7 linked regions of the Homo sapiens genome follow. The protein of the gene in region 1 purifies or fractionates together with the protein of each later gene. This does not show direct contact. Each region holds a gene or a part of one and is shown in the gene's direction. Other genes may lie near its edges. The genes, in order: GPR21, SLC12A6, CNNM1, KCNJ8, TMEM120B, SLC12A7 and GJA1.

Region 1 (4,699 bases):
AAAAGGTTTTTGATTTTAGACATGCTGTGGTTGAAATCTCTACAGGACATCTACAGGACATCTTCCATCTACTGGTGGAAAATGTGTGACTAGCAGGCAAATTGTAGATGGAAAAGGGAGCTTAGGAGTGAAGTCAGGGCTGGAGACCTAGGCAGAGAAATTATTTATGTTGAGGGAATAATTGACGCCATGTCATCATTCCTTCTTTTCAGCTACCTTCAGTGCTTTGTATATGCATAGCCTCAATGTATTTGAGTAATGTGTGACAGCACTGTATTCAGATAGCTGTTGTATGACCTAGAACTGTATAGCCTCAGTAAGAGCAGGCCCTTCAGGATTCAGAGGAGCCCAGCCTTAAGCATTTCAACATGATGGGCAGGAAAACACTGGCTCTTAAGGAAGGCTACTTTAGTTGTAGGAGCAGAAAGTGAGTAAAGTTATATACCCCCTCTGTGCTAGGTGTTGGTAAGCCTTTTTTATATACTTTATTTCTCAACAACCCTGTGAAGTAAGGAGTGTTGTTCTCATTTTACAGATGATGAAACAGAGGCTTAAGAGAGGATAAGTAATATTAGAGCAAGAATTTGAACCTGATTATTGTTCCTTCGATGCTATTGGTCTTTTTACTGTGCCACACACTTCGCTCTGTTTCCCAATAAGACCTGTCAAATATTACTATCAGGATTACGGTTAAATAGGTTTTTTATTTTGGGGCTATGGCCGCGTCTGGGACTGGCCAGACAACTGCTGCTGCTTCAGATTTAAAATGTAATTCATCGCATTCTGATTATGGGTGGCCATTTGTCTGTAATTAGAAAGCATGTGTATAAAATGAATAAAAATGAAAGTTGGATCACATGTTTTTACTCAGTTGCCTACCTCTTGGAATGCTTTCAAATGCCGGCATTTGTTTATTGTCTTTTATTCTGCTGGATACTTTCAATTAATCCTTCTAAATAAAGATACTAAAATTACACATTTTCATAGCACCCAACTCTGTTAGCTGAAAATTGTCATCATTTATGACATTACCAGGAAAACCACAATATAATATGATACAGTTTGCATTGTTTTAAATAGGCAGAAGCAAGATTGTATATTCTAAGATACAAAGGCTTATTTGTACCATGAAACTTCCTGTAATATCCATGCCTGAGTAGAAGAAGGTACATTTACTTTTCTATCTTCTGTTTGTATTCTTGTTTACTGCTCAGCAAATTAGAAGCAAGAAATGCATCTCAAAATTATAGCGTAGTGTCAAATATGGGAACAGTGTAATTTATCTGTGCTATTTGTGTAGTATTCAGAATGGGAGATACTTTATTTTTCTCTTGAAAAAGTGATCTTAAAGTTTCTTGGCCAATATTCAGTGAATCATGAGAGACAAAATTAATGGTGAATAGCCTTCTAGCTAGAACTTCTTGTGCAGCTGAATTATGATTCTCAGTTGCCATACGCCATACACTTAAAGGAAGTTAACATACTTCCTTTCTTTAATATTGCTCTTTGTTCTTTGGGAAAATGCCGTGAGAAAATAGAAATTACCCCTCTGGTAGTGTGTTTCAGTCTAATTCCTGACACCCTGTTCTGTTACTACCCCTTCTCCTTGCTAGCACCCTGAATTCTGCTTATCTACTAAAAGGGGGATTCCAGACAGACGAGGAAACAGCCTTCAAATGGTGCACTGCAGGCATAGCAAGCCATTCCCACACTGTGCAGTCTGGAAATCGGGGCACCTCTCTGACGATGAATTCCAATTAGTTGCTAAAGATGCCAGAGTGTGTGCACGTACAGGCTTTTTCTTTCCCCTCCCCCTTTCTTCCTTTTCCCAAGCCCCCTCTTCTCCCTGTTTCCCCTCCTACTCCTTTATCTCCTCCCTCCGTGTCTTAGTTCTGCAGTACGCGGGTTGAAGCACATTCCTGCTTTGCAAGGCTTTCTGCTAAGGATGTATTGTGGCTTTTGTTTGGATTGCAGCATGCAGAATTACAGGTAACATTCTGAAATTGAACTAAACAGTAAATTCTGTTGAAATGTTTTCAAAGAGGCAAAATATTATATTGGAATCAATGAAGAAAGTAAATTATCTTGGCTAATTTTATTAGTGGTAATTGTAGTGAAAGGTTTTCCTAAATATTATAAGCAAATTCCTTTTCTCCCCCGTCTCAAATGAAAGGAAATGGGGGTAAATTAATCTGACTGTGATTGGTTTTGTTTTATGCTGATCTTGAAAGCTTGATGTTGCTGCTGCTCCTCTATACAGTACAGATCAGTTGTGTGGGGTGCTATTGAGGGTAGCCGTGAATAGTGGTGCCAGTAGGGGTGGAGCGGGAGGGATGATGCCAGCCTGAGCTAGCCAGGTTCTTTGATTAGGGCATTGGATGTGAAATGTAAAATGCTCTCTCCTTTTCTTCTATCAGCTGTTCAGAGGAGACTCATTACAACTCCTGCTGAAGCTCCTAATCTTCTTCCCTTCTCTTCTACCCTTTCCCCCTACCCTCACTTGGCCTGAAGACGTTCTCCCCAGAGTTTACCTTGCTCCCCTGGTGCTATGTGTATGGTGAACCTGGCACTATGGCCGCGTCTGGGACTGGCCAGACAACTGCTGCTGGCTCTCCTTATTCCAGGAAGGATTTAAAGGGGAATTGCACTGCAGGCAATGCACCAGAGCAGCAGCATCAGGAGCTTGGGGAGTAAGGCTCCTCTGGCATTATTACACACATGCAAAGCTGACCGCAATGACAGCAGCTGCTTCTTTGAACTGTTGGCAGCAGCCAAGCGGCAGCATGAAGTGACAGATCACTCCTGAGCTCAAGATGAACTCCACCTTGGATGGTAATCAGAGCAGCCACCCTTTTTGCCTCTTGGCATTTGGCTATTTGGAAACTGTCAATTTTTGCCTTTTGGAAGTATTGATTATTGTCTTTCTAACTGTATTGATTATTTCTGGCAACATCATTGTGATTTTTGTATTTCACTGTGCACCTTTGTTGAACCATCACACTACAAGTTATTTTATCCAGACTATGGCATATGCTGACCTTTTTGTTGGGGTGAGCTGCGTGGTCCCTTCTTTATCACTCCTCCATCACCCCCTTCCAGTAGAGGAGTCCTTGACTTGCCAGATATTTGGTTTTGTAGTATCAGTTCTGAAGAGCGTCTCCATGGCTTCTCTGGCCTGTATCAGCATTGATAGATACATTGCCATTACTAAACCTTTAACCTATAATACTCTGGTTACACCCTGGAGACTACGCCTGTGTATTTTCCTGATTTGGCTATACTCGACCCTGGTCTTCCTGCCTTCCTTTTTCCACTGGGGCAAACCTGGATATCATGGAGATGTGTTTCAGTGGTGTGCGGAGTCCTGGCACACCGACTCCTACTTCACCCTGTTCATCGTGATGATGTTATATGCCCCAGCAGCCCTTATTGTCTGCTTCACCTATTTCAACATCTTCCGCATCTGCCAACAGCACACAAAGGATATCAGCGAAAGGCAAGCCCGCTTCAGCAGCCAGAGTGGGGAGACTGGGGAAGTGCAGGCCTGTCCTGATAAGCGCTATGCCATGGTCCTGTTTCGAATCACTAGTGTATTTTACATCCTCTGGTTGCCATATATCATCTACTTCTTGTTGGAAAGCTCCACTGGCCACAGCAACCGCTTCGCATCCTTCTTGACCACCTGGCTTGCTATTAGTAACAGTTTCTGCAACTGTGTAATTTATAGTCTCTCCAACAGTGTATTCCAAAGAGGACTAAAGCGCCTCTCAGGGGCTATGTGTACTTCTTGTGCAAGTCAGACTACAGCCAACGACCCTTACACAGTTAGAAGCAAAGGCCCTCTTAATGGATGTCATATCTGAAGTGGCTCAGTTACGGGGTTCCCGTGTGTGTGTGTGTGTGTGTGTGTGTGTGTGTGTGTGTGTGTGTATTTTATCTCTAAGTATTCCTAATTCACTAGGAAATCTGGGACAGAATACTTTGACTCTAAACAATAGCATACAAATTATTCGTATGGATACCTTCTAAGTTTGTAGAAATGGTTTTCAAAAGTGCTTGTGAATTAGAAGACTCAAGATCATGAAGACAAATTGCTCTTGCTCTCAATTTTTGAAATGTCTTGGAAATGACTACAGTTCTCAGATTTAAAATGAATAAAGCCATATCTAACACCTCTTTCCAGCTGGCATGACTGAACCTGAGTGTGAAAAGCGTCAGCATTTTAAAAAGTCATCACTTTCTTGTCACTTTCTGGGCTCTTTCCAGCTATTTGGGCTTCATATGCAATTGATTTCTTCTAACGGAATAGTAAAATATAAATGAAAAGGTTTTAGAAATTACTTTTTATGTATGCCAAAGCATAACTACACTGCAAGTTTCAACACTGTCATTTAGAAAGCCAAATGTTCTGTGTTTTATTCTCTTGAGAGAATTCTCAGTAGGGTGAATAATGTGAACACATAAACATTAATTTTAGAATTTTACAGTGAACCATGAAGCAAAAGTGCAATCAAATTATACAATTTATGAAAAACTGAGCTACTTTTTGTGCCATGCTTCACAGAGATCTAAAGATATGTGTGCGTAGAAGTAATCGTGTAGTACTTTTGCCCATGCCTTTGTGTTATGTCTATATTTAGAATATCTGAATTGTTAGATTTCTCTTTTACAGCAAAATGTGCTTAAGCTAAAAAGTAAT
Region 2 (4,421 bases), on another chromosome or scaffold:
CCTTTTCTGATTGAACCCCATATCCAGATATAATAAACCAGGCTCTTTTTGTCCCTATATTGCTATAATACCTATATCACTATATTTTGTTTTTATTTACATATTATCTTTCTCAACTATGCTGTAGGGTTCTTGAGGACAAGGATACAAAATCATTTACACCTAGTGTAATATGTGATATCACATATAACTTGTACACCATAAATATACATTGAGTTGAAGATCTTGTAGACTTAAAAACAAGAGACAAATTAAAAACGTACTCTGATAAAGGCATATTAATGTATGTACGAGAGTAGTGCTACTTCATCTGGCTGCATAATGAATGATCTAGAGAGCTTTTCAAAAAATGCCTCTAGGCTGGGCGCGGTGGCTCACGCCTGTAATCTCAGCACTTTGGGAGGCCAAGGCGGGCGGATCACTTGAGGCCAGGCGTTCGAGACCAGCCTGGCCAACATGGTGAAACCCCGTCTCTACTAAAAATATGAAAACTTAGCCAGGTGTTGCGGTGCATGCTTATAATCTCAGCTACTCAGGTGGCTGAGGCATGAGAACCTGGGAGGCGGAAGTTGCACTGCAGCCTGGATGACAGAGCGAGACTCTGTCTCAAATAAATAAATACCTCTACCCTGACAAACAAAACCTAACAAAAAACAAAATTATCATTTTTAGTCACACACCAAAATAAGTGAATTATATTGTTTTGCTAATCATAGGTGACTATTACTTATTATTATTATTGTTATTATTATTTTTTGAGACAGAGTCTCACTCTGTCGCCCAGGCTGGAGTGCAATGGTGCGGTCTCCACTCATTGCAACCTCCGCCTCCTGGGTTCAAGTGATTCTTCTGCCTCAGCCTCCCCAGTAGCTGGGACTACAGGCACGTGCCACTACACCCAGCTAATTTTTGTATTTTTAGTGGAGATAGGGTTTCACTATGTTGGCCAGGATGGACTATTACCTTTCTCTTAAATAAGTCTTCTATATTATATAATTATTGAATACTATCCATGTTTTACCTCAGCATTCTAATAGCTAAAATATGTTGATTTGGTACCTTCTTAGCTTGTCTGAAAGAAGCATCCTCTTGATAGTTTTGTTTTTTTTGTTTTTGTTTTTGTTTTTTTTTTGAGACAGGGTCTCATTCTGTCAACCAGGCTGGATACAGTGGTGTGATCACGGCTCACTGCAGCCTCAACTTTCTGAGCTCAAGCAGTCCTCCACCTCAGCCTCTTGAGTAGATGGGAACACAGGTGCACACCACTATGACCAGCTAATTTTTTTTTTGTAGAGACAAGGTTTTACCATGTTGCCCAGGCTGGTCTCGAACTCCTGCATTCAAGCAGTTAGCCCACCTCAGCCTCCCAAAGTGCTAGGATTACAGGCGTGAGCCACCGCGCCCAGCTGGTTATATACCTTAACTGTTTTTCCTCTCTTCTCTATACTCTGTAGCCAGATTAAACTTTATAATATACTGCTTTATACCACAAGAAGCAATCAGCCAAATCCAGAATATGGGAAGTTTTATTGGATAACTAGATTCTTCAACAAATAATTGGGATGGGGTGGAGGAGGAGTGATGGGAAGAGAGGGAAAGCTGTTACAGATAAAAAGAGCCGTATCAGCCAAATGCAGTGTGTGAACTTGGTTTGGATTCTGATGTGCATAAAACAATTGAAAAAAGATACTTTTGAGACGAGTGGGGGAAATTTGAACATGTACATGATATTAATATTAAGGAATTGTTAATTTTCTTATAGATGTTTATGACATTGTGATAATGTAAAGCTGTTATCTATAAAGATATATATTGAAGTATTTACAGGTTAAATGAAATGTACTCCAGCTCCTTCCTCCCCACTCCTCCCCAAAAAAGTTGGGGAGAGATAGACAAAACAAGATTAGCAAATGTTTATAATTTGTTGAAGTAGAGTAAAAGGTACATTTTACTATTTCTTAGCTTTTATCTTTGAAGATGTCTGGGAACTCCTGAGCTCAAGTGATCCTCTCACTTGGGTCTCTCAAAGTGCTAGGATTGCAGGCATGAGCCACCATGCCTGGCCAATTTTTAAAAAGGTTAAATTACAATTAAAGGATTTTCTTTTGAGTGTGTCCTAGAATGCTGTAGATATTTGATTAAATATCAGTGATCAATACAGTGATTACCTCAACTTCTTGTCTTTGATCTTCGGTGGTCTCTTCTGTGTCCTCACTAAGTCTTTCCATCATGAGCCCAAATTCTTTTGTTCTCAGTGGCATGTTTCTAGATTCCAGATTCTCATAAATTTTGATATTACCTTTACTGGAATGGAAGGAAATGAAAGAAGGTACTCCTGCAAACCTGGGAACCTTATGAAAGTTATGCTTTCCCATTTTAAAGCTGTTAGAAGAAGGGGAATGTTTCTAATGCTGATGTTTAAGGCAACTTATAATGCTGTAAGCTTTTGAATTATGGCTGCTGCTTCTTTTGCCCTTCGTGTCTAACATATACTTCTGGACTACTAAGAACTTTGTGCAAATTCTAAAAAGGCACTCCTTTGTGCCCTGAGCCATCATGACTTCACTGGAGAAGGGCAAGCTGGATTTCAACCCTCTTCCCCTTGCCCTTCTGGCTTAATGCCCTCGTGCACTGTCTACACAGCTGTAGCTGGTGAGCTTGTTGTTTCAGAATAATGAAGTTACATGAGTTTAAGTTTTTGGTGATGTGTGTTTCTGAGGAGTAGGTATGAAAGTTTGGAGAGCTATAGTGTAGGAATTATGTGAGCATTTGAATGTTAAAACAATGTATTCTTTTAATGAAGTTTTATAAGTTTTACAAGTATGTGGAAAAACAAGAAGCTATTCTCTGTTAAAACCCTGTAATTAGTGCTTCAGTGTATATATGTTTTTATTTTTTGAGACAGGGTCTAGCTCTGTTACCCAGGCTGGACTTGGGTAGGCAGTGGCTATTCAGAGGCACAACTGTAGTACACTGCAGTCTTGAACTCCTGGGCTCAAGCCATCTTCCCACCTCAGCCTCCTGAGTAGCTGGGACTACAGGCATGCACCACCATGCCCAGCTAACTTTTGTATTGGCTTTTGGTAGAGATGGGGTTTTGCCATGTTGCTCAGGTTGGTCTCGAACTCCTGAGCTCAAGCGATCTGCCCATCTCGGCCTCCCAAAGTGCTAGGATTACAGGTGTGACCCACCGCACCTGGCCCTGGTATACTTTTAAGAATCTCAACAATTACATTTGAAGGTACAAGCACAAAACTGCAGAACATACAACATATACACATGCATACAGCACCTTGCCTTAATGGTAGTTCAGTACCTGATGAGTAGGAAACACTATCACCATATTTGCTCAGCTCTAAGGTGTGTACATTACCATATTTTAACATTTCTGATATTCAGGTGCGTCTTACTTTTGAAGAATTTTTAAGCTACTGTTAAAGTGGAATTTATACTTAACAAGATTTCAGAATCAAGTCAGTATTGTAAATAAGTCAGTCTGAGGGGCTTTGCGAAACCTGAAGTTTTGAAGTTACCTTTGGATGTCTTAACTGAAAAAAATGTAACGGCTGAAGTTTTTTTCTTCTTAAAATTTCAGTTTTTGTAGTTGAAAACTGTAGAAATAGAAAACAAAAGCCACATTGTTAGGAAATGACAGGTCTTCTAATTTTAGTCTTTTTTTTTTTCTTTTTAAAATTTCCTGTTATCTTAGCTCAGAGCTGGGTTTCAGTCTCCAGTTTTCTAGCTAATTTAACCAATGGCAGCTTTTTGTTTGTAGTTTTATTACGGCATTGCTAATCCTCATTATATTTGTCGTGGCCTTGAGCAAAAAACTCAATTGATGACATTCACCTGTTTATAGTCATAACCATTTGGTAAATAACTTTAATTTTTGGCAAAGTAGCACCTGAATTTCTCTCATTTTACCAGACAGGTCTACATTTACTTTGGGGTAAAGCTATTTATTTTTCATATTGCTAGTTTAAAAAAAGAGAGAAGAGAGAACACTAATAAGTTAAAAACTCTTATGTACACATCCACGTTTTCACTTTGAGGAGCTATGAGAAATTGAATCTAACCAAAATTTACTTTTATTCTATTTTGAGAGCATTTGCATTTACCATATCTAATTTTTTTTTTTTTTGAGACAGAGTCTTGCTCTATTGCCCAGGCTGTAGTGCAGTGATGCGGTCTCGGCTCACTGCAGCCTCCGCCTCACAGGTTCAAGCAGTTCTCCTCCCTCAGCCTCCTGAGTAGCTGGGATTACAGGCGCATGCCACCATGCCCGGTTGATTTTTGTATTTTTAGTAGAGACGGGGTTTTACCATGTTTAGGTCTCGAACTCTTGACCTCATGATCTGTCTGCCTCGGCCTCCCAAAGTGCTGGGATTACAGGCGTGAGCCACTGTGCCTGGCTAAAGTTG
Region 3 (4,421 bases), on another chromosome or scaffold:
TCCTTGAGGACAGAGAATGAATCTTACTTATTTTGTATTCTCAGGACAAGTATAGTGACCGCCATGGCTAGGGGATGTATAACCATTTATTGAATAAATGGTTTTAAATACCTAACTTCTATATTTCTATGTTTGAGTGAGGTGAACCCTAAGTACGGAATAATTAATGTTGTTCCTTGATCCCAGCAAATCTCTCCTCTTCCTCTTCATGGGCCTCTGTCCCCAGTAAGTGGCACCACTTGTCCCTTTAGTCTCCCAGACTAGAAAGCTTTCCTTTGCATTCACCTCATCCTATTAATCATTGTCGTCTGCACAGGCTGTCATTAGAAAATAGCATAGACTGGTGACCTAAACAACAGAAATTTATTTTCTCGCAATTCAAGGCTTTGACATCCAAGATCAAGGTTTTGGCCAACTCAGTTTCTGGTGAGGACGTTCTTCCTGGCTTGCATGTGGGTGCCTTCTCTCCATGGCCTTTCCTCAGTGCCTGTCCACAGACAGCAAGAGGCTCTGGTCCTCTCTTCTTAGAAAGACATCAATCCTGTTGGATTAGGGCCCACCCTTATGCCATCATTTAATCTTAACTACTATACTTCCTTAGAGGCCTCTCTGGGTGTCGTTAGGGCTTCAACATATGAATTTTGTGGGAAGACAAACATTCAGTCCATAACAATCACCAAAGCTGGCCAAATAATTGGATGCCAATATTGCATCCAACTGCAGTCATGTCATTTTGGTCAATGATGGACTGCATGTATGATGGTGATCCCATAAGATTACATTGGAGCTGGAAAATTCCTGTCACCTAGTGATGTCCTAGCAGTCATAACACCTAACATCGTCCTAAGGCAACACATTACCTTTACTATGTTTAGATACGCAAATACTTACCATTGTGTTACAATTACCTACAGTATTTGGCACAGTAACATGCTCTACAGGTTTGTAGCCTAGGAGCAATAGATTATAACATATAGCCTATGTGTGTAGTACACTATATCCTCTAGGTTTTGTGTGACTACATTCTATGATGTTCACACAATCATGAAATTGCCTAGCAATGAATTTCTCAGAGAGTGTCTCCATAGTTAAGCAGTGCATGACGATTTCTTAAATCTGTACATAATTTAATCCACTATTTGTTCCACTTAGGTTATTCACTGATTTTATTCAACAAATAGTTGTGTTGGCACAGTGGAGAACATCATCAACATAGTCCTTGTCTCTATAGAGCTTCACTCTAATACAGGAAACAGAAATTAAACGAACAGGATAGTGATTAAGAACATAAGATTTGGCCAGGCGTGGTAGCTCACTCCTGTAATCCGAGCACTTTGGGAGGCCGAGACAGGTGGATCATTTGAGGTCAGGAGTTAGAGACCAGCCTGGCCAACACAGTGAAACCCCGTCTCTACTAAAAATACAAAAATTAGCCGGGCAGTAATGGTGCACACCTGTAATTCCAGTTACTCAGGAGGCTGAGGCAGGGAGGTTGCAGTAAGCCAAGATCATGCCACTGAACTCCAGTGGCAACAGAATGAGACCCTGTCTCAAAAAAAGAACATAAGACTTACTAGAATGCCTGGGTTGATACTGGCCCTGGGCAAATTACTTAACTGTTTATGTCTGTTTCATTAGCTGTAAAATGAAAATAATACTAATATTTACTCATAAGATTGTGTGAAATATTAAGACTATCGCATTATGCTTACTTACTACCTGTCATGTAAGTACTAAGTAGATGTTAGCTATGATTATTAAATATAAACACAAGTCTATTACTCATTTATGCAAATGCCTCCTAAGAAGTTACACTTTTTCACATTTTTGTCTCCCTCAAATTCGTTCTCTCTAGTGCCACTAAAATAATCTCCAGTAATGTCACTGCTTAAAACCCTTCAGCAGCTCCCCGCTGCCTACGGGAGAGAGGCTAAGCTGGTAAGGCAGCCAGCAATGCACTCATGACCTGCTTCTTGCCCTCCCCTCCAGCCTCATCGCTCACCACTCCCTGCCACAGCTTTACCCTCCAGCAATGCTGAACTCTGTGGTGCACTGTGCTATTCTTGCCTTTGTCCCTTTATTCACATTGCACTTCTGTCAGGAATATGCTTTGCCTGACTAATTCATTGCCAGCTCTTTGACACTCAGCTCAGGGGCCTCCTCCTCTGGGAGACTTCTCCTGTAAACCCCAAAATACAAAAATAGATTTTTTGGCCAGCTTCATTGTTTTATGTGCATATCTCAATCATTGAACTAACAAGCTGTACTACCAGTGTTTGTTTATAAGTGCCTCCCACCCATATAATGAGCATCTCCAGGGCAAAACTGTCTTATCTGTCTTTGTAGCTCCAGCAGCTAACGATGCATATGACACATAGTAAATTTTCAATGAATGTTTGTTTAAGGACTGAATGGATGACTTAAGGAGTTAAACTTTAATATAATGGAAGAGATCTGCAGAGCACTAGAAAATGAATTAAATCATTTTGGACTATGCAGCAGAACAAATCAAACTTATAAGTTTGTTAGTGTTAGAAGAAAAGTGTTGCATCTATTGTTTCTCAGCTTCTTTAGGTACATCTATTAATATTTATTACAACAATTTCTTTTCACATGTAAAGCACTGTGCTAAGAGTTAGGGGTATGAGATAAAATCTCTGTTCCCAAAGAGCCTAAAGCATAGTGGATGAATAGCACTTCCCTTTGCAAAGCTAGAAGGCAAGCTGGACACTCACCTTTCCCATGACTTCCAGTGACCTTGAATTTACAAGTCATGTCTCAGTATATAAGTACAGGATATGGGTAAGACAGACCTTGGTACATAAAGCATTAAAATGAAAGTGCTATACTAGAAATGCAAAAATGCAATGGGAACATGGAGGATACAATAACTATGACTAGGTGGCATTTTTTTTTTTTTTTTTTGAGATGGAGTCTCACTTTGTCGCCCAGGCTGGAGTGCAGTGGTGTGATCTCGCCTCCCAGGTTCAAGCGATTCTCCTGCCTCAGCCTCCCAAGTAGCTGGGACTACAGGCATGTGCCACCATGCCCGGCTAAATTTTTGTATTTTAGTAGAGACGAGGTTTCACCGTGTTGCCCGGGGTGGTCTCGAACTCCTGAGCTCAGGCAATCCGCCAACCTCGGCCTCCCAAAGTGCTAGGATTACAGGTGTGAGCCATTGCACCCAGTCATATTTTGCTTTTATAAATTTTTTACTGAAGTTTATGTTTCTATAATTTATACAGAAAAAAATTTAAATATAGAATAGTAGAAAAAAGAAGTATGAAAATCATATGAGGATAATCATCCCACTATCCTGAAATAGTAACTCAATATTTTGTCATATTAAAAATATATTGCACATAATAACAATCTTAATGAAATTCTTAAAAAGAAAACAAAAGGAAAAGCCCATTGTCCTGCCATCAAGCACAAATCAAATGTCCCATTCTAATCTTAAGAGTGATTTTCTTATAGGGTGGTATTTTTGCTATAGTTTCCTCAGGGTTGAGTGCTATAATTTGGGAAGACTAATTTTAAAAATGGAGCCGTAGAGATTTATCATACTTCTTAAATTTACTACTCTATTATTGGATTGCTTTTAGGAGACACTGAGTTCTGTATAGACAACAGGGGAAAGGAATAAAGCTTTGTTCTGAAGTCAAAGCTTCTGAGTAATACAGCACTGACTGACATTTAACTCAATTAAACAATTCAGCTTTGCTGGGCTAGTAACACCATCTTTGCAAACAAAAAAGCACAACCCACGTATGCTAGGCTGCTCCACCTGTACACTAGCATGGCTGTAACACAGCCTACTGCACAATCCATACTCAGTCTTTGCTTATTCATTGATTCATTCAGTAAACATTTTTTGAATTCCTGCTTTGGGCCAGGCATTACACTAGACTCTGGGAATACAGTGGTGAGCTAGGCAGACATTATGGAGCTAAAAATATCCTCTTCCATCTTTGGTCTTCCTGCAAGTGGTCTGTTGCCCAAAGCAGGGGTCCCTAACCCCCAGACTGCAGAATGGTACCAGTTTGTGGCCTGGTAGGAACTGGGCCACACAGTGGAAGGTGAGCAGTGGGCAAGCATTACTGTCTGAGCCCCACCTCCTGTCAGATCAGCTGGGGCATTAGGAGCGAGAACCCTATTGTGAACTGCATATGCAAGGAATCTAGGTTGCGTGCTCCTTGTGAGAATCTAATGCCTGATGATCTGAGGTGGAACAGTTCCATCCCCAAACCATGCCCCCTCCCACCCTAGTTCATGGAAAAATCATCTTCCACAAAAGCTGTCCCTGGTGCCAGAAAGGTTGGGGACCTCTGGCCTAAAGTATTCCAACCAGCCAGTAAGTGTTCCTGGCCCAGACACACAATGTGACCTTTTCACTGCAGAATAATCTAGTCCAAAATGCC
Region 4 (4,421 bases), on another chromosome or scaffold:
GCTTAATCATTTTTGCTTTTGATTTAAAGTGAGAGACAGCGAATATTTCCTTTACTCGAACACTTAGTGTTCTTTGTAGGGCTATTAACTGACCTAATTTCAATAGTGCTGTGTCTCAGGGAATAGGAAATCCTGATGAAAGGGGAAGAAACAAGGGAACAGCTGGTCAGTGGAGGACTCAGAACACACACATTTATCGATTGTTTGCCATCTTATATGGGCATGGCTCATGGTGCCCCAAACTAGGGGTTCCCAATCCTTGGGCTGCAGACCAGTACTAGTCTGTGGCCTGTTAGAAACCAGGCCACATAGCAGGAGGTGAGCAGTGGGGGAGCAAACATTACCTCCTGAGCTCTGCCTCCTGTCACATCAGTGGGGGCATTAGATTCTCATAGGAGTGTGAACCCTACGGTGAACTGCGAAGGTGAGGGATCTAGGCTGCGGGCTCCTTGTAAGAATCTAATTCCTGATGATCTGAGGTGGAACAGTTTCATCTCGAAACCATTTCCCCCCACACACACCCCCCAGTATTGTCTTCTACAAAACCAGTCCCTGTTGCCAAAAAGGCTGGGGACTGCTGCCCTAAACAATTACAATAATGACATCAAATATCACTAATCACACATCATGGTAACTGATGTAATAATAATGAAAAAGTTTGAAATTTTGTGAGAATTACCAAAATGTGACACACAGACACAAAGTGAGCACGTTTTGAAAAAATTGTGATAATAGACTGGCTGGATGAAGGTTGCCACAGACCTTCAATTTATAAAAATGCAGTATCTGCAAAATACATTACAGCAGAGAAGAATAAAATAAGGCATATCTGTATGTGACCTTGACACAGTCATTTACTAGTTTCTGCCCCTAGTTCTCCCTTTAATCATTTCAGTATTCTCCAGAACACCTAGAGTAGTGCTCCCCAACCTTTTTGGAGCCAGGGACTGGTTTTGCGGAACGCCAATTTTTCCACTGATGGGGGTGGGGGATGGGGATGGTGTGGGGATAAAACTGTCCCACCTCAGATCATGAGGCATTAGATTCTCATAAGGAGGGATAACCTATATCTCCCACATGTGCAATTCACAATAAGGTTCACTATACCATGAGAATCCAGTGCCTCCACTAACCTGACTGGAGGCAGAGCTCTGGCGGTAATGCTGGCTTACCCACTACTCACCTCCTGCTGTGTGGCCTAGTTCCTGACAAGCCATGGACCAGCACTGGTCCCTGGCCTGGAGGTGGGGGGGGGGGGGGTTGGGGACCCCTGACTTAACAAAATTAGATCATCAATAAGACACTTTTCTTTCCAAATGGAAAACAACTCCCTTCTATTAAAAATACTAGTTGTTTGGAATAATGTGTTTTATACTAGTTTTTTTAGCACTGTGCTATTTCTATATGAGACACAAAATAAGTATTAGCTAATGAATATGATTTTAAAGATTATAAATAATAAATTCACTCAGTACTCAGTACCTTCCATATGACTCAAGTCTCCTAAACATAGATACGCAATAAATAATAAACATCTACCTGGTAGAAAGTTTTACAAAGTAAACTGTGCCTTTGTGAAAGTGAAGTATTTCGCAAGGTAAAATATGCATATATATGAAAATATATTAATCTTTTACACAAATTAGGCCCATCACTATGTGACCTATGAAACATTAATAGAATGTTAATAGAATTAGGCCTTAGCTTAAGGGAACTTAATTAATAGAATGTTAATCTCCAGAAGTCTGGAGGTAGATGCATGCAAGAGAGAGAGAGACTGTTCTAAACACAGTTTAGAATTAGGCATTTTACAAGTTTAAGTTGGCTAGTCTTTCTGCAAGCATTTAATAGTCTTTGGTGGAAGAAAATGAAAAGCTCAGCTTGGCATATTTCATTATTCAAAATGTGACCTGATGGTGTTCTTTTCTGATATCATTCCTCACAGGTCTTTCACTTCTGCTTTTCTCTTCTCCATTGAAGTTCAAGTTACCATTGGGTTTGGAGGGAGGATGATGACAGAGGAATGCCCTTTGGCCATCACGGTTTTGATTCTCCAGAATATTGTGGGTTTGATCATCAATGCAGTCATGTTAGGCTGCATTTTCATGAAAACAGCTCAGGCTCACAGAAGGGCAGAAACTTTGATTTTCAGCCGCCATGCTGTGATTGCCGTCCGAAATGGCAAGCTGTGCTTCATGTTCCGAGTGGGTGACCTGAGGAAAAGCATGATCATTAGTGCCTCTGTGCGCATCCAGGTGGTCAAGAAAACAACTACACCTGAAGGGGAGGTGGTTCCTATTCACCAACTGGACATTCCTGTTGATAACCCAATCGAGAGCAATAACATTTTTCTGGTGGCCCCTTTGATCATCTGCCACGTGATTGACAAGCGCAGTCCCCTGTATGACATCTCAGCAACTGACCTGGCCAACCAAGACTTGGAGGTCATAGTTATTCTGGAAGGAGTGGTTGAAACTACTGGCATCACCACACAAGCACGAACCTCCTACATTGCTGAGGAGATCCAATGGGGCCACCGCTTTGTGTCCATTGTGACTGAGGAAGAAGGAGTGTATTCTGTGGATTACTCCAAATTTGGCAACACTGTTAAAGTAGCTGCTCCACGGTGCAGTGCCCGAGAGCTGGATGAGAAACCTTCCATCCTTATTCAGACCCTCCAAAAGAGTGAACTGTCTCATCAAAATTCTCTGAGGAAGCGCAACTCCATGAGAAGAAACAATTCCATGAGGAGGAACAATTCTATCCGAAGGAACAATTCTTCCCTCATGGTACCAAAGGTGCAATTTATGACTCCAGAAGGAAATCAAAACACATCGGAATCATGACAGCAAGATAACCCCAAGACAGTCTTTTATCAAGTTTTGACGGTTTATGCTGGGCACTGCCAGACTGAACCAGAGCTGGAACACAATAATGTGTCCTTCTACATTTTATTACACTAAATGATATTCATATTCAAGCAACAGCACTTTCTGTAGTAATAAAAAGTAACACACCAAGTGGAGGATTCATGGCTTATGCTTGTTTCATACATGTAGAATTCGCAGTGATATACTTAAGTTATGTGCAGGGGTGGGTATGCTCGTTTCTCTCAATTTGAAACACAAGAATTACACTAATAGTAACAGGCCTTGAGCACAAAATTTGGTCAAGAAATGAGTCTGTTTGAAATGCTTAGTTGGTGAAACCCAGATCGCTGTGTTACTAATGATCACTCTGGAAATGCAAATAGAATAGGAGGGGAAAAAACAAAATCATGTTAATGCGTTTTGTACATCAGCCTTCTCCTGTCTCCATGATAACTGCATTTGGTAGGAAGCCTGAGGCAAAAACTGCTTAAGTGGATCTGTTTGTAAGTGGATTCAGTTCATTCGCTTTGTCTGTCGGTGACTCCTGAAGGTTTCCTGGTCCATCTCATTGCGGCCTGTTGGGCAGAGCTGGACAAGGTGTCTTTGAAGGAAAGCTAAGTCTTGTCTCATTTAGGACTGGGTTCCCCACAGTGACAGTCACTTCCTTCAGCATCTCACTTCTTCTTCTAGAATCCCCACAGGGAAATACTGTATTGAATATTTTATTAAAACATTTTCTTTGTACTCACTGTAGTTTTGTGATTCCTCTTTCACAAAATCATCCCAAGTTAAAACTCAAGATGTTTTTAGAGCCATGTAAAAGAGATGTCAAAGTGATAACACTCACTCTGAGATTCCTCTCTCTCAAGTCTGTTTGCTCCAAAACTAGCTTTTTTTTGCTTTGTTTTGATTTTATTTCAGGTTTTAAAATGTCCTCTTGGTTTTTCAATCTAAGCCTGACATACCATAAAAATCCTATAAGCTTTTTTTTTTAATCTTCAATCTCCCATCTTAAAACTATACTTCCTTCCCAGTAGTATCTGAATTTAGGCTTGGCATTTATAGATTTAGCATCATCTCATTTGCTAAAGTGAGATTTTCTATCAAAGCTTCATTTAAGCATATTTAGTGCCTGCTTCTTCAAGGAAGGGATGAGACAGGAGAGAGAAGTACTAGGTTAATAAACTATATATGCTTTTATTCTTACATTTTATAGCTAAACATCAGAAAGCTGAGCTATTGTGAAATCTTTCACACAGATTTGGGGGTTTGTATTTATGAACATTGAAATAGGTAATTATGAAATGTTCTATCTTAAGACTCATGATTCCAACCAGGTGAACAGAAACTGTTTATCACGTCATTGAGTTAATCATTCCTGAAAGGGTTCTAACTGTTCCTCTGAACTCCAGACTCACAGATCAAACAGGCACCTGAGGCTCCACTTGGAGATTGAACAAGCATTTCAAACTTACTAGGTCTAAAACCAAATACTTCATTCTCACTCACAAAAGCTGCCCTCCTCCCAGTCTTTCTTCCAATCACTCAGGC
Region 5 (4,421 bases), on another chromosome or scaffold:
TAGAACTAATGCATGTGAAAATTCATTATAAAATGCAAAACCCTGTGCAGATTAAAGAAATTAGTAACAACATAGCGCCCAGTGTCTGTGTGTTGTCACCTGGCTCTTGGTGGCTTGAAGAGAGAGAGCAGTCAGGCCAGGTGACAGGGTTGCTATTGTCATAGTGAATGCCCACCCAGCTATGACAGGTGAGGGCTGACCCCCCGCATGTGTGACTGTCCCTGGCTCATCTTAGGGTGACTGGTGTGGCTGGGGGTGGGCGTCTGGTGGAGCTGTGGGGGCAGCGGACCCCCTCAGCGGGTCCTTTTTCTTCCCTCCTCTCCACAGAAGGGTTCCAGTCCTGGATGTGGCGGGGCCTCACCTTTCTCCTGCCCTTCCTCTTCTGTGGCCATGTGAGTCCCCCTGGAGTTTGTGGGTATCTCCTGTCTGGGCTGACCCCCAGGAACAGAAGGTCTTCAGGCCTTGCCCTCCTTCTCCATCCGTCCCCATGCTGGGGCCCACAGCATCCTGGGGCCGGGGCAGCCTCTGGGCCCAGGGATGCCAAGGCAGGAGCCAGAACTGACCTAGCTCTGCCCTGGCCTCGGGTGCCTGCATTTCATTTTGGGGGTGTCTGTCAGTGTTGTGGGTAGTTGATACCCAAAGTTGGGTGAGGGGCCTGGCCATCACCCTGGCTTTCTACGTGGCCGGCCAGGGGAGTCTGGTGGGTGAGCAGCGCCTGCCTTCCTCTCCAGTTCTGGCAGCTCTACAATGCCGTCACGCTGTTTGAGCTCTCCAGCCACGAGGAATGCAGAGAATGGCAGGTATGGGGGGTGGGGGCATGCTCGGGGGAGGTTCCCGGGAGGGCTGGGGTGGCAGGGATGGGGTGTATGTGTGGCATGCTGGGGTGCGGATTCCTGGGGAGGGCTGGGATGGCAGATGTGGGGGTGGGGTGTGTGCGTGTGTGTGGTGTGCTGTGGGGAGGTTCCTGGGGCGGGCTGGGCTGGCAGGTGTGGGGTGTTGTGGGGGGCCTGCTTGGCGGGAGGCTTCTGGAAGGGCTAGGGGTGGAGCCTCTCCCAATCTGTGGATCCCAAGGAGGTTCGCCCCATCGAGCCCTTCCCAGGCCCTGCCCAAGCCTGAGGCCTCACCCTTCCCCCAGGTCTCCTGAATCTCTGCCTTCGATGGCAAAACCCTGCAGTTTGGGAGTTTGGGGGCAGCTGTGCTGGAGATTCTGGGGTGCTGGGGGCAGGGGTTCAGCAGGGCAGATGCCCCAGCCTCGCCCTCCTCTCTGGACTCCCCCAGGTGTTCGTACTGGCGTTCACCTTCCTCATCCTCTTCCTCGGCAACTTCCTGACCACGCTCAAAGTCGTGCATGCCAAGCTCCAGAAGAACAGAGGCAAGACAAAGCAGCCGTGAGCCTCGGGCTCCTGTGCCCTCGGCCCGGACTTCAGACTGCAGGGGGCTCCCGGGCTCCTTCCCAGCAGCCCTCTCAGGCCCGTGGCATCGCTGGGAGAGGGCCCAGGCCCTGGTCCCCCAGTGGACCCCAGTGGTCTAGAGGAATGTGAGCCCCGCCTGTCCGCACAGTGTCCGCCCACCTATTTATGACATATTTAATGCTGGGTCCCCCATCGTCCCTGGAACCCGAGGCCTCACTCCTGTGCTTGAAGGTGGCTGAGGCCGGGCCAGTCTTCCTGGGGATGGGGCCTGAAGCCTCAGGGAGCCCCTCTGTTCCCACTCCTGTCATTTGAACCCCTCTGGGTGGGGTTTGGATGTGCCTCGCGGGGTTGGATTTATGCTGACCTGCTACTTACCAGGCCCAGGCTGGGGTGGTGTGAACCCTCAGTGTCCTGTGGCGCCCCCACCCCGGGGCCACTCTGCTTCTGCTGTGAGCCCCCTCCTCGCCCACCCCGCCACGTGGTGAGGGTTATTTTAAGTTCTCAGAGACCCACCGCGTCTGCCTCGTGCTCTTCTTGCCCCTGGAGCGCTGGGGGCATCCTGAGTCAGGCTGTGAGAAGATTCGCCACCAGAGGGCGCCCCGGGCCCTGGGTCGTCCAAGGGGACAAGGACGTTCCCGTCTGTGCTTCGGGGTTCCCTGACCCCCCCATCCTGCAGCCCACCTTCCTGCAGTGTCGTGGCAGGTACTTGGAGAGTGGGACCAAGACCCTTGGCCCCTGTGGAGGGGAACCACCTCCCCCCTCCTTCCCAGAGCTTCTGGATGTTGTGGGAGGGAGGTGGGGGTGCCTGGCAGGCTCACCCCCAGGGGCCGCACCCTGAGGCGGGGTCAGAGCCACTGGGCATCGCTTGGGTGAGATTCTGCATTCGACGGGAGGCAGAGAGGCCACCAGGTTTGGCTGAGTGCTCTGCCCCACCATTCATATATGGGCCTCAGCTCCCCCTAACTGTGGCCCTACAAATCCCTAGGCCAGACCTCACAGCAGTGCCCACAGGCATGCCTTGTTTAGCCCTCCTCAAGGAATTTTAAAATTTTTAATTACTTTTTTTTTTTTTGAGACAGGGTCTGTTGCCTAGGCGGGAGTGCAGTGGCATCATAGGTCACTGTAGCCTCCGCCTCCAGGGCTCAAGGGATCCTCCCACCTCAGCCTCTGGAGTAGCTGGGACCACAATCACACACCACCATGCCCTGCTCCTTTTTTTTTTTTTTTTTTGAGATGGGAGTCTCGATCTGTTACCCAGGCTGGAGTGCAGTGACACAATCTCAGCTCACTGCAACCTCTGCCTCCCAGGTTCAAGTGATTCTCCTGCCTCAGCCTCCCGAGTAACTGGGACTACAGGCGCGTGCCACCATGCCTGGCTTTTGTTTTGTTTTGTTTTGTTTTGTATTTTTAGTAGAGACAGGGTTTCACCATGTTTGCCAGGATAGTCTCGATCTCTTGACCTTGTGATCTGCCTGCCTCAGCCTCCCAAAGTGCTGGGATTACAGGTGTGAGCCACCATGCCTGGTCACCCTGCTACTTTTTAATACTTTTTAGTAGAGATGGGGTCTCACTATGTTGCCCAGGCTGGTCTCCAACTCATGGGCTCAACTCATCCTCCTATCTTGGCCTCCCAAAGCGCTGGGATTACAGGTGTGAGCCACTGTGCCTGGCCTGATTACATTTTTAAAATGAGATTTCCCCACCCCTACAGTGAGATTCCACATAAAAATCCAGATTTCTGCTTTCCCTAGAAAAACGGACCTGGCAACATTCCCGTGGCACAGGACGCCTACTCTCCAGTTGCCACAGGCCCTGCCACCCCCCTGCCCTTCATTCTGGTCTCCTTTCTGGTCCTTTTTAGGCACCTGCGTTTGCCCTAGATTAGGAGTCAGCTAGCTGTCTGTAAAGGGCCAGATGGCAACTATTTTGAGCTTTATGGGCCAGGTGGTTTGTGGCAGCTACTCTTCACCTGCAGCCCCAGAGCACAAGGCAATGCAGAAAGGAATGGGTGTTGCTGTGTTCCAATAAAACTTTATTTACAAATCAGGCTGTGGCCAGATGTGGCCCACAGGCTGTAGTTGTTGGACCTCTACCGTAGACCATCATGAGGCCTGGGGTTCTTCGAGAACAAGAACTCCTTGGTTGATTCCCCAGGGTACGGCAGGGCCTTGGGAACCTGGGTGGGTTGGGGAGGGTCTCAGAAGGCTCCTTCCTTTGGCAACCTGACTTCTTGGAAGCTCAGGTTTAGCTGACGCCCCAGCACTGGGCCAGGGGGGCTGAGGCAGGAGATATGGGGAAGGCTAGGAGTTGCCTGAAGCCATTATCCCATCTTAGGCGACACCGACTCCTAGGCGCCCTCCAGAGCCAAGCAGCTTGCGACTTCTGGTAGGCACCGGAATCCCCTGGGATGCTTGTTTTAAAAGTCCTGGGCCGGGCACGGTGGCTCACGCCTGTAATCCCAGCACTTTGGGAGGCTAAGGCGGGTGGATCACGAGGTCAGGAGTTCAAGACCAGCCTGGCCAACATGGTGAAACCCTGTCTCTACTAAAAATACAAAAATTAGCCGGACGTGGTGGTGTGCGCATGTAGTCCCAGCTACTCAGGAGGCTGAGGCAAGAGAATCGCTTGAACCCAGGAGGTGGAGCTTGCAGTGAGCCAAGATCATGCCACTGCACTCTAGCCTGAGTGACAGAATGAGACTCTGTCCCAAAAAAAAAAAAAAAAAAAAATTCCCAGACCCTCGGCCCCAGACCTTCCCAAAGGAGGCTCAGGGATTAGGTATCTGGCTGTTGGTGACACAGGTGGTCTATGAACCAGTTCTGAGAAACTGTCCCGCGTGGACAGGGGGTAGATCCCATCAGTTCTCAAAGGAGGCCAGGATGTCTCGCCTCCTGAACTCCACAGGCTGGTAGAAGCGGGGCTTGAGGGACAGCAGGTTGGGAGCTTGAGGACTAAGTGGGCCAGTCCTGTCCTACCACAGTGGGGGGAACAGTCCACAGAAAACTTGCT
Region 6 (4,421 bases), on another chromosome or scaffold:
CCTTCTTCTCCACCTGCGGTGCCGGCCTGCAGAGCCTCACGGGGGCACCGCGCCTACTGCAGGCCATTGCCCGTGACGGCATCGTCCCCTTCCTGCAGGTGAGTCCCGCACCCTCGTCGGGGGGACCCTGGAAGGTCAGGGTCGGGGGCTCTCCTCCCCTGCGGGATCCTCACAGTGCCGTGTGTGGGACGCATGCCCGCGGCTTGGACCCCATGGTGGTCATTCTGCCCCTGGCCACTGCACAGAGCATGGGAGTGGTGGGAGGTGGGTGGTGGGCAGAGGCAATTCTAGCCCTCCTGCCTGCAGGTCCCTCCGAGCTCGGCCCCGGGTGTGTCAGGAGCGGCTGTGAGGGCCCACAGCCACGTGTCCAGAGGTGCCTGGTCTGTTGTCTGGTCAGAAGCCCTCTGCCTGCCTGCCACATCTTTCTCTGTGTGGCTGAGCTCTTCAGCCCGTGGGAGGTGGCGTCACCAGCCACCTGCAGCCAGTGTGTGTGGCTGCTCTGAGGATTGCACGGACGCCCGCATGGGTCCTGTCCGTGTGCTGTGCCCAGAGCTGCCGATTGTGGCTCCTCCTGCTACCTGGGCCCAGGGGCAGCTGTGGGAAGGTCGTGGATGGCAGAGCCATCCTTGCCCGTCGCTGGTCCCTCGGCAGGGTGCCGACCCGCAGGGCCTTTGTGTGGTTGCATCTTCAGTCCCAGCCGGGCCTAGGGCATGGTGTCCAGGAAGGGGACAGGCACACAGGCCCCGTGGGCCTCAGCTTCTGGGAGGTGAGGGTGGCCTGATGAGAAAGGTCACCACAGGGTCTGGGGAACCGCGAGTGCCCTGGAGACGCTGGTCCTGTGTTGTGTGGTCGGGGAAACTGAGGCGGGGGGGCAGGCTGGGGCCACACAGGTTGCAGGCAAGCCGGGCGTAGGCACAGCTCTGAAGCCTCCTGGGCTGCAGCCCTTTGTCAGGGCTTCTTCCCAGGCCAGCCGCGTGATGTCCCGGGGACCTACTGTGAAAGGCGTTTCTGCTGGTCTGTGTCTTTAAGATTCATCTGGGCTAGACCTGACCAGCCTGCAGCTTCTCTCCTAAAAGGGTGGTGTCATCTGCCCCATCTTCCTGCCCTTCTCCCTGCAGGTGTTTGGCCACGGGAAGGCCAACGGGGAGCCCACGTGGGCGCTGCTGCTGACAGTCCTCATCTGCGAGACTGGCATCCTCATCGCCTCTCTGGACAGCGTGGCCCCGATCCTCTCCATGTGAGCCCCCACAGGACGGGGACCTGGGGATGGGTGTATGGGCCTGGAGCGTGGGGCAGTGTGGATGGGAGGTCCTGCTCAGGACAAGCAGTAGACAGGCATGGCCAGCTGTGGGCAGTCAGGATCCTGCCGGGAAGGGAGTTGCGCCGGGGAAGACAAGTACACAGGCCTCCAGGCAGCCGCCCGCTGGGGTCAGCCAGGGACAGTGTGGCTGGACAGACGGCTGCTGGGGAAGGGACGATGGCCCATCTCTTGATGGACCAGGTGGTCACAGGATGGCTGGAACCTGAGGGGGCCTGATTCGGAATCAGTCTGAGTCAGCTCACGTGCAGAGACAGACATGGGGAGACAAGGCGCAGGTGGGAGGGACAGTGACAAGGGTGGTCTCCCAGGTGGCAGTGACTGGGGGCTCAGGGGGGCCCAGTGGGCCCGTATCAGTGGCCGGCCGTCCCTGCAGGTTCTTCCTCATGTGCTACCTGTTCGTGAACCTGGCCTGCGCCGTGCAGACCCTGCTACGTACCCCCAACTGGCGTCCACGCTTCAAGTTCTACCACTGGTGAGGCCACTCAGCACGGGCGTGAGGAGCCCCACAGGCTGGGACACTGGGTGCCTCTGCCACTGGTGAGGCCGCTCAGCACAGGCGTCAGGAGCCCCACAGGCTGGGACACTGGGTGCCTCTACAAGGCCAGCTGCTCTGGGCCTGAAGACCCCAGCGCGTCCTTGACTGTTCCTTTGCGGAGTAAGCCCCTGCGCAGCTGATGAGACTGCACCTGAGGAAGGCCTCTGGTTACGAGGATGCCCAGGTGTCTGCATGTGCCTTGTACCTCCCGTGGTCAGCCCAGCCTTCCCAGGCTTGGGGCGTAGCCCATCAGGGCTGTGGGTCTTCTTAACTCCCCTCCCCAGGAATCAGGCGCTGGGTGGACGCTTCAGCCCCTTGTTGCATGCACAGCCGAGGTGCTGTGTGCACGCTGGGAGCTGGAGCTATGTACTGGGTTTTGGAGTGACAGCTCCCACAGGGGCCCAGGGAGCCACGTCACCCCTCAGAGGTGGTTGAGTACAGCCATGGTCGTCAGGCGTCAGTGACTGTTTTCCTAGTGTTAACAGAGAGTTTTACTGAGGGAGGGGCAGTGTCCGTGTGGTGGTGGCTGAGGTGTGGGGGCTGCATGGCGTTGGGCCGCCCCGAGCCACTTGCCCCGCCCCCAGGACCCTGTCCTTTCTGGGTATGAGCCTGTGCCTGGCGCTGATGTTCATCTGCTCCTGGTACTACGCGCTGTCCGCCATGCTCATCGCTGGCTGCATCTACAAGTACATCGAGTACCGCGGGTAAGCGCTGTCAGCCCCCCTTACAGACCCGGCGCACGGGAGGGCGGGCCCCTCTCATGCTATGCCTGGGGCAGCTCCCTGGAGGGGCCTCCCTGGGGCTTGAGCGTCGTGTGCCCTCACAGGGGCAGCTGGGAGCACGTCCAGGTGGGCTGTGTTGTGAAAGCTGGGGTTTCCCTCCCACTTCCAGCCAGGCCGAGGTGCCTGCACTTGTGGACAGGGTCTCCAGCCTGGAGCTCTGTCTCGTGCCGTCCTCAGCAGGCGGTGAGCCCACGGCTGACTATTCCTGCTACGTGTCTCGCGAGGTGTCCCCAGGTTGTGTCTGTACTCACTCGGCAGCCACAGGCGTCCTTCCCCGTGCCCCAGCACCCACCCTCCCTCCACCTGCACCCGCCTCGTGCCCGGGGTCCAGCCACTTCCCTGTCATGGGCCTCCTGTCCCCCGTCCTGTGAGGAAGGCACCTCACGCATGCTGGACGTAGACCTCGTTCCCTCCACAGCCACAGCACCCTCTGACCCGGTGGCTCCTAGGACGGGCTCCCTTCAGGGCAAGGGTGGGCATGGAGGCCTCCCTCCTCATCCAGGGACTTTTCCTGGGGGTCCTGTTTGCCCCAACTCACCTGCCCCCAGAAGTCCCCTTTCCCAGGTGGGAGAGGAGCCTCCAGGTACGCGGCTGGACAAACCCCGACTTCCTTTCCCACAGGGCCGAGAAGGAGTGGGGCGATGGCATCCGTGGCCTATCCCTGAACGCCGCCCGCTACGCCCTGCTGCGCGTGGAGCACGGTCCCCCCCACACCAAGAACTGGAGGTGAGCACCGCCCATGCCCCGTGGTCCTCAGACGCACAGAAGAGCTGTTTCTGAGGTCGGCCTTTGAGTGGGGACCTTTGAGTCTCAGGGGCCTCTCACCTTCAGCCGCTCAGGCAAGGTCTGGGGTGTGAACACTGCCTGGTGCAGAGCGGATGGCGCAGCTGGGGGCCGGGGGTGTCCCTGCTGCAGGGTGGGGGTGTGGGGAGCCGGCCCCTCTGCCAGCACAGCCCTGGGCTTGGGGTGGGAGAGGGTGGCTCCTGCTGAAGCAAAGGCCATCTTTGGGAAGCCTCTGCCCCTCAGGGCCTCGGCGGGGGCCTCAGGTGTGTGCCCCGGGCCATTGTCCCCTCAGGGGCCTCGGCGGGGGCCTCGGGTGTGCCCCGGGCCATTGTCCCCTCAGGGCCTCGGTGGGGGCTTCAGGTGTGTGTCCTGGGCCATTGTCTCACCTGTCTAGCATGTCACCTGTCCCACCTGTCTAACCTACCTGTTCTCCTGTCCTGCCTGGCTAGTGCCCACCTGTCCATCGGCCCTGCCTGTCCCACCTGGCTTCTGTGGCCTGTCTCACCTGTCACCTGTTCAACTTACCCCACGTGTGTCACGTTTCCCCATCCCATCTGTCACCTGCCCCTTTTGTCCCCTGTCCCGCCTGTCATGTATCTCCCGTCCCACCTGTGTCGTGTGCCCCGCCCGTCCCATCTGCCCTGCCTGTTGATGGGCCGTGCCCTGGTAAGCGTTGCCGTGGTAACAGCCGCCCCACCCTGGCTGCAGGCCCCAGGTGCTGGTGATGCTGAACCTGGACGCGGAGCAGGCCGTGAAGCACCCCCGCCTGCTGTCCTTCACGTCGCAGCTGAAGGCCGGCAAGGGCCTGACCATCGTGGGCTCGGTGCTGGAGGGGACGTACCTGGACAAGCACATGGAGGCTCAGCGGGCCGAGGAGGTGGGCCGGGCGGGGTCTGGGGGCCAGGCCTCTTTCCCACCCCAGCTGCACAGGAAACGTGCCCTGGCATGTCCTCATCGCAGCGTGTCAACACGGTGCTGTGCGTGGCGCTGCTGTGTTTTA
Region 7 (4,115 bases), on another chromosome or scaffold:
AAAAAAACCTGCAACATTTCAAAAGATGTTATATTAGTCATTTCAGTGAAAGTTTAATTAGGGAACGGTGTCTACCAGAATATATTTGGCATCCTTCTTTTTTCTGGTATTTGCCTGAGTGAGAAAAGTGTTAGGAATAGGAAGGCCAGATGAGTTTGCTTTCCCTCCAGAGAATACTGGCCAAGAAATTTCCTGTCCAACCTCAGGAGCATCACTGAAGCCTGTTTATGAGGAATTGTCCTACCACAACACTGTGTTATGGCATTTGGGAAGCCCTCAGAGGAGCTGCCTGCTCTAAGATTGAGGCCACATGACTCAGGCCATTATAAACCCTAATGCAGAGCCCTGAAGAGGGAGAGCATTTGGAAGGGGATAGGGAAGCACATAAAGATGATATGCTCAGCTTTACTGTCGTTGGGCAGAAAACTCTCTAGTGGGCTTGAGAGGGGGAACTGATTTTAAGGAGGGCTGAATAGTTTGGGAACCTACTTAATGCAACCATAGTCTGTATTTTTAAAATCCTCACATTTCACTACAGATTTGGGTTTTAGTGTCTTGGCATAAATAGGGCCTTAATATAAATTCTTAGTTTTCTGGAGACATGGTAGAGGTCAGATATCAAGATTTCATAGGCAAACAAAACATGCTATATATGTAAAAAATGTATATACACACACAGCCTTTTGCTAAACTGAAAGAAAGTAAAAATTCAAAGCAGTCAAGGGGTTGAAAGATGGATTGGGTATGGACTTTTCTTCATCTATGTCAATTTTTGAAATCTCTCTCCCATCTCCACCATTCCCTTTGTTAATTGTCCTTGCTTACATTTAAAGGAAGGGAATTAGATCATCAAACAGGTCACTCACACCTACCTCTAACTTCACACACCTTGGTCAATGTGAAACAAGCTTGAACTGGTTATATGCTTCCCCACCATTTTTATTTATTGTAAGCTACTTTAAAAATTTTAGACAATGTTGTAATAAAAATATACACCTTTTTCCCCCATTATCCCTGGTCTTCTGGTGAAGCAAGCAGTGTAATCAATGATTCTTATGTGTGAGGAGCAACTCCAAGTAGAGGCGTTCATGTCCCTAATGCTTTTTTATTTTTCCTCATCAGCAAATTTAAACTACAACTTTATCCTGATCCCACTGCTGCTCTTTGCCTCTTCTCCCCCCAGCCCTTCCACATTTACCAGCCTCCTCCCTACCTCCTCCCAGCCTTTCCCTTTGCCCTCCCCTTTCTTCTAGCCCCTCCTCCCAGTTGAGTCAGTGGCTTGAAACTTTTAAAAGCTCTGTGCTCCAAGTTACAAAAAAGCTTTTACGAGGTATCAGCACTTTTCTTTCATTAGGGGGAAGGCGTGAGGAAAGTACCAAACAGCAGCGGAGTTTTAAACTTTAAATAGACAGGTCTGAGTGCCTGAACTTGCCTTTTCATTTTACTTCATCCTCCAAGGAGTTCAATCACTTGGCGTGACTTCACTACTTTTAAGCAAAAGAGTAAGTTTTTAAAAAATGAGAACACGTTACCTATTAGTTTCTTTTTCTACAAGTAAAACTTTTCTAAAGTTTTAAAATGTGTTAAATGTAATTTTGAATTATGATACTGTAAATGGATTGATGGATTTGAAAGTGTTTCTATAGTTTTAAAGTTAAAATTTATTGTACCAAATATATATTTTGACTGTTAAAAAAGTTTCTATTAACATTGCAACAGGTGAAAAGGTTCAAACCTTTCCGATTAGAATAAAGGATTAGTTTACTGGATGTTTGGTTTTTCATTTTAGAGTATCATTTTATTTTGTTTTTTTTTTGTAATCAGTAATAGTCTAGGTGCTATCATTTGTTGGGTGGGGGGGGGGCGGTTAGGCGCCTGGGTTGGGGGATTTGACTGACTACATCGGAAAAATCAAAGTGCAAATTTGCTTAGCGTGCTTCCTATAGTATTCTACACTTCATAGAATAAAGTGCTTTTTTCATATGGAAATCTTGATTGATGTTCTATAGCTTTGCAAAGCCAACTTCTTTTGTGACGAAGTGCTTTGTTAAAACATCGTGGTTACTTGACTTCCACGTGGTTCCTTCCTAGAATTTTCCCCATTAAACAAAAAGGTATAAAATTCAAGAGTATTAATATTATGCTTTAAAAATCAACAGTAAATTGTTACTTTGTGTTAGCAACCGCTATGGAAAGATTTGAGACCCTCAGGAGAGACAGCTTTTACTCGACCACGTTGGCAGTTTAGGAGATGAAATCTCTTGAATGGGTGGTGGCTAGTTACAGAGCATTAGAGATCAGACGTTTAAAAAAGAGTGTATGCCAGGGTACTTTTCCAAAACCGTCTCCTAAAACGGGAGCTCCTAGAAAGAGCAGGAAAAAAACTTTCTTAAACAGCGCTTTGGGAGCTCCCCCCGCCAACACCCGCCGCCCCGCACCTTCCCTCTGCTCGAACCTGTAACAGAATTCAGAACTCTGGGGCAGTTCTTTGGAGTTGGAGCTCCTAGGGCAAAGATAACGCTAATGCGTTGTTTAAAAGGGTTCAATTTTTAAAATACTTTTATTGGTAACACCCATTCTGTTCATCAGAAATGCAGCCATGCATTTTTGTGCCCGGTAAAGATTTTCTGTTCTGTGTAAATCTACAAACTAAAATAATTAGTTTAGATTCTTGACGTGACCCTGCAGTGGAAGTATTTGCACCAGTGAATGCTGAAAAGCAAATAAAAATGAAAGCTTTGCGGAGGCCGTGGGCCGGACGGGCGCGGGGCGCCTCCTGCCATCTTAGCGTCTGCCGGGATCCTTCCCGCGCCTTCGCTGCCCGAACCAGCTCGGTCTTGGGACGTTTCCCCCAAATCCTCACAAGTCAAATCGAACTCAGGTCCGAGTTCGTCACTGCAAAGGAACCCGGGGTGCGGGGTGGGAGGGATAGGAGGAGAGATGGGCTGGGTGCCAAATGGTAGAACAAATGGTTGATTTAATTAAAGTTGTCAATCTAATTTCCCATCCCTCTCACACCAGCCCTTTTTTTTTTTCTTTTTCTTTTTTCCTCTTAAACTTGCTGAATCCCACTATCTCCGCGTTGGTAAGAAAACCTGAATACCTTGGGAATTGTGCTTAAATTGCACTTGCAACTCCCCTGGAAGTTCCTGAAACTTCCCGAGAATGAGGCGGGGCGGCTCAAGGGGAAAGGGCAGGGAGGAGAGACCCTCGGGAAGCTGATGACGCGTCCGGGGCAAGTCAGCCTGTTTCCGAGACGCGCGCCTCACGGTCGTAGCAGCGCTGCGCCCACCCTGCCCCTTTAGTGACCCAGCCAGCCTTTGCTGGGGGTTTCTGATAACGCTCATCGATAAGCTCTCCTTGCTCCCAAAAGGCGTGCTTCTCTTTCTCTCCAGGTACAAAGTAGGGGTGGGAAGGGGAGAGCTACACAATGTTGTAAAAAGAAGCGTGGCTTTATTTGGAAGACGGTTGAATTTCTTTTGCTTCCTCGACCCAGTTAGTAACGACAAGAAAGATACTGAATATCGCCCTCCGAAAATCGGGCGCATTTGAACTCGGTGAAAAGTGTCCCTGTGAGGAAGCCTAATGTTTACTTTTGTGCAAGGATAACTGGAAATTAAAGCGTCTAGTAATGCAGAGATTTCATTAAGCGAGCGCTCCCCTCCCCCCCGCGCCAGGAATGAAATAAGCCAGTTAGACAGAAAACACTTTTGGGAGAAGACTAATTACTTCTGGGTAGGCCGAATTGACTGGAAATTATACCAAGCAAAGGCAGTACATTCCATTCCGTCCTGGCGATGTTGATTCTATATTATTAGAACATTGTTCCCCCAGTGTGGGGGTGCTTTGTACTTCCCAAAGTCAGGGTAGACTGGTTACCTGGGAAAATGCAGTGTTAGTGCTTTGCTCCTACTTTCTTCACTGTTTAAACATGTTCCACATTTTTCTAATGCCTTCTGAGGGTTCTCAACCCAGCCACTGAGTTCCTCACCCTTGGCGACTGTGATACCAACAATGCTGTCACCCTCCTTGGGAAACATGGTTGCAAAGATGCTCCGCAGGAGGCAGATAAAAGGCTGTGCTTTCAGATACTGAAGGTTGCTTTGTTACTTAGA

The links.
Region 2: the proteins of GPR21 (region 1) and SLC12A6 purify together in Homo sapiens (affinity purification with mass spectrometry; 2 studies listed by BioGRID and IntAct, with this or other methods). This does not show direct contact.
Region 3: the proteins of GPR21 (region 1) and CNNM1 purify together in Homo sapiens (affinity purification with mass spectrometry; 2 studies listed by BioGRID and IntAct, with this or other methods). This does not show direct contact.
Region 4: the proteins of GPR21 (region 1) and KCNJ8 purify together in Homo sapiens (affinity purification with mass spectrometry; 2 studies listed by BioGRID and IntAct, with this or other methods). This does not show direct contact.
Region 5: the proteins of GPR21 (region 1) and TMEM120B purify together in Homo sapiens (affinity purification with mass spectrometry; 2 studies listed by BioGRID and IntAct, with this or other methods). This does not show direct contact.
Region 6: the proteins of GPR21 (region 1) and SLC12A7 purify together in Homo sapiens (affinity purification with mass spectrometry; 2 studies listed by BioGRID and IntAct, with this or other methods). This does not show direct contact.
Region 7: the proteins of GPR21 (region 1) and GJA1 purify together in Homo sapiens (affinity purification with mass spectrometry; 2 studies listed by BioGRID and IntAct, with this or other methods). This does not show direct contact.

Annotation. Positions count from the first base shown.
Region 1 is NC_000009.12:123,031,754-123,036,452, forward strand, and holds GPR21 (probable G-protein coupled receptor 21), read left to right. Parts: upstream 1-1,913; 5' UTR 1,914-1,989; intron 1,990-2,417; 5' UTR 2,418-2,813; coding exon 2,814-3,863; 3' UTR 3,864-3,912; downstream 3,913-4,699. UniProt on the Homo sapiens protein: Orphan receptor.
Region 2 is NC_000015.10:34,327,378-34,331,798, reverse strand, and holds part of SLC12A6 (solute carrier family 12 member 6), read left to right. Parts: intron 1-4,421.
Region 3 is NC_000010.11:99,335,389-99,339,809, forward strand, and holds part of CNNM1 (metal transporter CNNM1), read left to right. Parts: intron 1-4,421. UniProt on the Homo sapiens protein: Probable metal transporter.
Region 4 is NC_000012.12:21,764,148-21,768,568, reverse strand, and holds the end of KCNJ8 (ATP-sensitive inward rectifier potassium channel 8), read left to right. Parts: intron 1-1,945; coding exon 1,946-2,846; 3' UTR 2,847-3,614; downstream 3,615-4,421. UniProt on the Homo sapiens protein: Inward rectifier potassium channels are characterized by a greater tendency to allow potassium to flow into the cell rather than out of it.
Region 5 is NC_000012.12:121,774,331-121,778,751, forward strand, and holds part of TMEM120B (transmembrane protein 120B), read left to right. Parts: intron 1-327; coding exon 328-392; intron 393-731; coding exon 732-800; intron 801-1,278; coding exon 1,279-1,392; 3' UTR 1,393-4,421. UniProt on the Homo sapiens protein: Necessary for efficient adipogenesis. Does not show ion channel activity.
Region 6 is NC_000005.10:1,073,510-1,077,930, reverse strand, and holds part of SLC12A7 (solute carrier family 12 member 7), read left to right. Parts: coding exon 1-98; intron 99-1,118; coding exon 1,119-1,237; intron 1,238-1,694; coding exon 1,695-1,793; intron 1,794-2,440; coding exon 2,441-2,560; intron 2,561-3,259; coding exon 3,260-3,364; intron 3,365-4,129; coding exon 4,130-4,298; intron 4,299-4,421. UniProt on the Homo sapiens protein: Mediates electroneutral potassium-chloride cotransport when activated by cell swelling. May mediate K(+) uptake into Deiters' cells in the cochlea and contribute to K(+) recycling in the inner ear.
Region 7 is NC_000006.12:121,434,331-121,438,445, forward strand, and holds the start of GJA1 (gap junction alpha-1 protein), read left to right. Parts: upstream 1-1,315; 5' UTR 1,316-1,502; intron 1,503-4,115. UniProt on the Homo sapiens protein: Gap junction protein that acts as a regulator of bladder capacity. A gap junction consists of a cluster of closely packed pairs of transmembrane channels, the connexons, through which materials of low MW diffuse from one cell to a neighboring cell.